Homo sapiens: one gene and its partner. The protein of the gene in region 2 interacts with the protein of the main gene of each other region in a pairwise test. Each region holds a gene or a part of one and is shown on either strand. Other genes may lie near its edges.

The links. Proteins that work in one complex are often made in the same cells at the same time.
Region 1: the proteins of ASF1A (region 2) and NASP interact in binary tests that used the Homo sapiens proteins (3 or more experiments, as listed by UniProt).

What each region holds. Positions count from the first base shown.
Region 1 is NC_000001.11:45,611,388-45,615,043, reverse strand, and holds part of NASP (nuclear autoantigenic sperm protein), read right to left. Parts: intron 1,876-3,656; coding exon 1,796-1,875; intron 949-1,795; coding exon 863-948; intron 752-862; coding exon 678-751; intron 32-677; coding exon 1-31. UniProt on the Homo sapiens protein: Component of the histone chaperone network. Binds and stabilizes histone H3-H4 not bound to chromatin to maintain a soluble reservoir and modulate degradation by chaperone-mediated autophagy.
Region 2 is NC_000006.12:118,906,805-118,909,720, reverse strand, and holds the end of ASF1A (histone chaperone ASF1A), read right to left. Parts: intron 2,320-2,916; coding exon 2,107-2,319; 3' UTR 550-2,106; downstream 1-549. UniProt on the Homo sapiens protein: Histone chaperone that facilitates histone deposition and histone exchange and removal during nucleosome assembly and disassembly.

The DNA.
Region 1 (3,656 bases), on a different chromosome or scaffold from region 2:
TGGAACTCCTCCACAGCTTGCACATAGTTTTCTAACAAAGAGAAAAAGAAGAGCAAGTAAATGGACAGCATTCAACATAAAATACTTCCAGAATTCAGACCCATCCTATGGGAATGCACCCATATTTAACATTCCATTTTTGTTTATAGTTATTTCCAGGACCCTTGGCTATAAAGAAAGTCAAAATGACTTTTAAAAACCTACTGAGGCTGGGCGTGGTGGCTCACACCTGTAATCCCAGCACTTTGGGAGGCTGAGGCGGGCAGATCACAAGGTCAGGAGTTCAAGACCAGCCTGGCCAATATGGTGAAACCCCGTCTCTACTAAAAATACAAAAATTAACCGGGCGTGGTGGTGGGTGCCTGTAATCCCAGCTACTCGAGAGCCTGAGGCAGGAGAATCGCTTGAACCCGGGTGGCGGAGGTTGCAGTGAGCCGAGATTACGCCATTGCACTCCAGCCTAGGCGACACAGCAAGACCCCATCTCAAAAAAAACAAAACAAAACAAACCTACTGGAAGACTGAGTGCCACTTGGAAGAGACTGTTCATTGTTCCAGGGTCTACAGGGAACACAGACCTATCTTTTTAAAGATCAAGTTCGGTTCCAGAGAATCTATTAGAGGAAGAACGAGGGAGCTGAAGAGAGTAGGAGAGTATAAAATGGAAAATGCATTACCAGATTCAACACTAACTTCTCCGAGTTTAAGATGTGCCTGGGCAGCATAAAGCTGTGCTTCTTTTGTTTCTTGCCTAAAAGAAGGAAAATTGATCAAAAACCTTAACAGTACCTGTCTAACCCTAACTGGTTTCTATTTAACCACCAAACTCCCAACCCAAGCCTAGAAGCACCAAGAGTTTTACCTTTTAAAAATGATCTTTGCTAAATCCAGCATATCCCAGGCAAGCTCTAGGTTCCCAATCTCCTCCTCCTCATTTTCTTGAAGAGACTAAAGTATAACCAAATAATAAAAAGATAGGCATCTTTTTCAAATACAAATCTAAATGTATAACTTAGCGTAGCTTAAAAAAAGTTGATATACGATTCAAAATTTGGACTTTCTCCCTAAAATCTAGAGAATGGGTCCACATACTGTCTTAAGTCATGACCATGTCACTGATATTTTAACAGTGAAATGTTGGCTCACATACTAACACACAAGAACCCCAGGATCAAATATATCCACCCATCCTAGGCATGAATAAAGGGTCCCTAATCCATAATCAAGAGACAGTTATCTATAATAATCATGCCTAGGGCTGGGCATGGTGGGTTATGCCTATAATCCCAACACTTTGGGAGGCTGAGGCAGGAGAATAACTTGAAGCCAGGTTTGAGACCAGCCTGGGCAGCACAGCAAGACAGCCGTCTAAACAAAATAAAATTAGAGAACAAATTAGCCAGACATGGTGGCAGACATCTGGAGACCTAGCTATCTGAGAAGATGAGGCAGAAGGATTCCTTGAACCCAGGAGGCTAAAGATACAGTGAGCCCTGATCATGCCAGTGCACTCCGGCCTGGGCAGAGACAGAGATTCTATCTCTTAAAAAAATAATAATCGTGCCTAAACTAGGTAAGCTACAGTCCTGCAAACTAGCTGGGCATGTTGGCACAAGCCTGTAGTCCCAGCTACTTGAGAGGCTGAGGTGAGGCGATCACTTAAGCCCGGGTCTAGGCTGCAGTGAGCCATGATCATGATCACCCCACTGCAATCCAGCCTAGGCAACAAGAGTGAGCTCCAGTCTCCCAAAAACAGAAAAAGGCTGACAACAGTACTGAGTGGCTAACAACATACCTTGTTTTCAAGGACTGAATCATTTGGCATTTCTTCGGTCTTATCATTTTCTTTATCATCCTCTTCTGAGCCTTCAGTTTCTACAAGTAAAAATTCCTCAGTATTGAGAATATAACTAAGAACGTATTCTGACTAGTCAGAGATTCCAATACACGTCTCAACCTATATTCAGATAGGACAGGCCAGATGCTAATCCAAGTGAGTTAACACCTGAACTGAATATATCGTCAGTGGGTGCAGTCTAGTTCAAGTGTAACCTAGACTAAGAATGTGCAATCTTAGTCTATGGGTCAGACCTTCAGCAATTAAAAGGCTGAGTGTTTCTCTTATAAAAGTCAACCTGGACCATTCAGAATAAGAAACATTGGCTACTGCCTCTTATTCAATGGCTAGAAGCTCCCATTCATTCAGCCAGAAGCAGGTGGAGACCTCAGTCAGTGTTTCTGGTATCTTTAAGCCACTCATTAGATAATACTAATAGCCTGGGAAAGTACGAAAGTTAAATTATTCCAGTCCATTCTGATCAAGAATGCTCAAGAGACTAGCTTTCCCACAACAGAGATGTGGAGCAAAAAGCATAGTCCTTACCGACTTACACCAATGAGCATGCCACAGACTCCAGCCAGCTCTAGCACATACAGAATTTGAGTAAGGAATACTATAACCCCTATTTTACTCCTATACCTTTGCTAATGACACCTCTAAAATCTGCAGCCATATATCAACACCATATTTCACCATATTGAATACACTCACAAGTCAACCATCTAAAGGTCAGGCTCCTAATCAATAGCGCTACTGTGATTAGACAAATCAACAATGTTAAGTGATTAAAATAAGCTTTCTGTTAACACAAACAACTCATGAATTGGATATAATATGCCTCTCTCTGCCATCTTTCATTATGCATTTTTAACACCAGCAAAAAAGCTCAAACACTATCTCCAAACACTCTTACTATGGGAATATAAATATGGCAATTAGGACTTAGAGCAATCGTCAGGTCAAAGGAGTTTTATCAGCAGCAACCACAAAGAGATTCCGTTTTCAAAGAAGCTTAGAAAATACTTTAACAGGGTCAGGCGCGGTGACTCACGCCTGTAATCCCAGCTCTTTGGGAGGCCGAGGCGGGCGGATCACGAGGTCAGGAGATTGAGACCATCCTGGCGAACATGGTGAAACCCCGTCTCTACTAAAAAAAAAAACCAAAAAACAAAAAAATTAGCCAGGTGTGGTGGCAGGCGCATGTAGTCCCAGCTACTTGGGAGGCTGAGGCAGGAGCATGGCGTGAACCCAGGAGGTGGAGCTTGCAGTGAGCGGATTATCGCACCACTGCACTCCAGCCTGGGTGACAGAGCAAGACTCCGTCTCAAAAAAAAAAAAAAAAAAAAAAGATACTTTAACAAATTTACTGAGGACATCAGGGCATTGCCATTGATACCTGGGCACAAGTTGGGAAAGGTTTTAAAGTAATGGCAATGGCTGCCAGGCGCGGTGGCTCACACCTGTAATCCTAGCACTTTGGGAGGCCAAGGTGGGCAGATCACCAGGTCAGGAGATTGGGACCATCCTGGCTAACACGGTGAAACCCCGTCTCTACTAAAAATACAAAAAATTAGCCAGGCGTGGTGGCACATGCCTGTAGTCCCAGCTACTCGGGAGGCGGAGGCAGAACAATCACTTGAACCTAGGAGGCGGAGGTTGCAGTGAGCCTAGATCACGCCACTGCATTCCAGCCTGGGTGACAGAGCAAGACTCTGTCTCAAAAAAAAAAAAAAAAAAAAAAAAAAAAGTAATGGCGATGGCTTTCTCCTTAACCTAGCTCCCCACCATTCCTTGAAGATGGTACAGATTCCTCAAG
Region 2 (2,916 bases):
AGCCTAAAGTTGTATAAGGTTATGAATGGGCAAATAAATGCATGCATACTTCTTCAGACCTCTGGAATGTTTTCTCAGCCCAAATAATACCCTTAATGCCTCCATCTTAGTGGCATAAGTCATTGGTTCATGTTTATATTCTTAGGACACAGCTATTTACTATGAGCAAAAGGGTGGAAAATAGTTCTTCAGATACAGTATTGGCAAATGACGCTAGACCGGGTGGAAAAAAAACTTATGTGCTACAGTTTCTTACGTTTCTAATGTTTGAAGTCTAAATCTATTTTCAGTCATTAAAAAAATTCTTAGAGTGATAAAATTTAAGATAACAAAAGGTAATGGTTCGCATGTCCCAAGCTTAAGTGAAAATTGGTTGTCCATTTACAACTTGATACAAAAACCTAACCCTTTGATGTCACTACAAATAGATTGTTATAATTAGTCAGAATAAAAACTCAGCAGTAAATGGCTTTATTTGGTGATTTGGCTGTATATGCTTTATTTCTAATAAGCACATATGTTGTTCCTATTATATTAACCACTGAGCTCTTTGTTGGAAAGTAATGCTTTTATTTTCATTTTAATATTTTAACATTTTTCTTTTAATTGCAATTAGACAAATGAGATTTTCTTTATATAGTTTTAACAGTCAGAAGTATTTTACTTTTAAAATCTATGAACTAGTTAATGGACAATATTTTAATAATCTGGTATATTAAATTCAAAGTTTAACATCTGGCAAAACTTTGCTTCACAAATTCACTTTTTTAGAATGATAGGAAATATATACAACTCAGAATCCATGTTTAGACAAATGCCCTTTTCCTTTCCTCAACATAAAAGCTTTAAAAAGTGCAGTATAAAAGTTTTAGATATGAAGGCACTGCATAACCTGCATCATATGGCTGTCTTGCTTAGCTGCAAGAATAATGAAAATATTCTACCTCAATTTTATGGAGCATAAGAAAATTTTTTGAGGAAGGACTTAACTCTCAAAGAAAAAGAAACCTTTTACCCCATTTAGTTAATGAATTCCTTTCCAAGATTGCTTTTCAAAGATTTGTTGGAAAAGCTATCTAGAGTATGTCAACCACAAATATGCCTGATCTCATTCTGCATGAGTGTCAGAGGAAATGGGGAAGAGTACTACAGGTGTGAAAATATATATATTTCCAAAATAGTAACGTATCTATTATAATAAAGCTAAATATACCTTTCTAAATCCATGGTTTTTATATAAATACTGCCAATAACATGATCTATTAAAAGAATTTTTAAAGGTCATGGTATTTTTAGAAATCAAATGAACCAATTTGAGCCATTGTAATCCCCTATTCTTAAACACAGGGAGTTTGTATTTTCTCCCGATATTGTATTTGGTCTTGAATTCACTGGACAATAATGATGTATGATTCAAGAAATGCTCTGATATTCTAAACTCTGTTATAAGAACAAAAACCATAGCCAGGGGACCTTATTAACAATTAGCCATATTTGTTCTTCTCTTACCAAACAAACCAAATGCTGTCCAACATCTCATGAACTATAATAGTAGCCATAAGAGGCTTCACGGTGGCTTGGAAAATTGGATCCTAAAGTTCTTGGTAGCATATAGTTGATTTCAAATCCTCTTTTTAAGGACATGCCAAAAAAGAATGGAAATCTGCCCCTTAAATTAAAATGATACCATATGTCTTCACAGGAAGAAACATTTTAGTTGAAGTAAACTTTGTTCTTTCAAAGGCCAGTAAAATAGTGGTCCAAAGACTGTCTGGGAGGCCAAGACATCTTTACAACCTGGTCTAATGATTCCTGTTTCTTTATAAGTGCTTTCATTACATATAAAGGAGAAGAAAATAATATATATGCTTTAATCAGATTAGTTTCAGAACAAATAAAATAACACATTAGAGAAAAAAATTACTTAAAAATAGTTGTATTTATATTCCACAATTTGTTCAAATACTGGTTTTCTTATAAACTTTCTACAGGATGTTTTTAAACAAATTCTTCACATTGTGTTTTGACTATGTACTTACGGAATTTCAGGGAAATAGTTCTGTGTATTTTTAATAGCTTAATTTGTACTAAAGGGATGGTAGGTGGTCACATGCAGTCCATGTGGGATTCTAACATGACATTTAGTGAGTTTTCTGATGTGGACCATCCCTTTGATGCTGAAGGTAATGCATCTGTTGAAAGAAGTGACTGTAGATTTGGATTACTGCTCTCTGCATCTTCCAGTTTTTCTGTGTTATCTTCCCAATTAATGTGGAATCTTGTGACCCTGGGATTAGATGCCAAAATATTCCTTTGAAGCTAGAGGAAAAAGGAAACATACAAATGGTAAACACTAAGAAAGTTAAATCACCATATACAAATAGAAGCTTAATAAAATGGTTCATGTTAGTACTCCTAAAGGGCTAAGTTCATATACAAAGGTATAATTCAAGTTAAGTACCTTAAATATAACTAATAAGATGTAACGACTAGGGCTGTAGCAAAGAAGTTATTTTAGATTAACAGAAACAAGATACGGAGAATCTGAGGGGATTCATCTGGCTTTTTAACTATTTAACTCCTATACTTCTGTTTTCTAAAAGAAAGAATCTCCTCATTTTTGAAAATGAATGCTTCAGAAGATGCTTTATTTAACAAGCTACTATGTTGTTTAGATTGGTATGTTTTCAAAGGAAAATGAAAAATTGTCAAATACAACTTATTATTAATGGTTTCCTACACCTTTTAAAGATGGCTCATTCTTAGAAACAGTCCTGTTTCTTTTGTGCTATATAAGGTGCTTCAGGGATAACAAATTGGATCAATGGAAGGTACAACAAGGGTGAAAAATAGTCCGGCCTTATTATCAGAAAGAACATGAGAACATTCTATTCTATTGTCATGTAATTTTTCTTG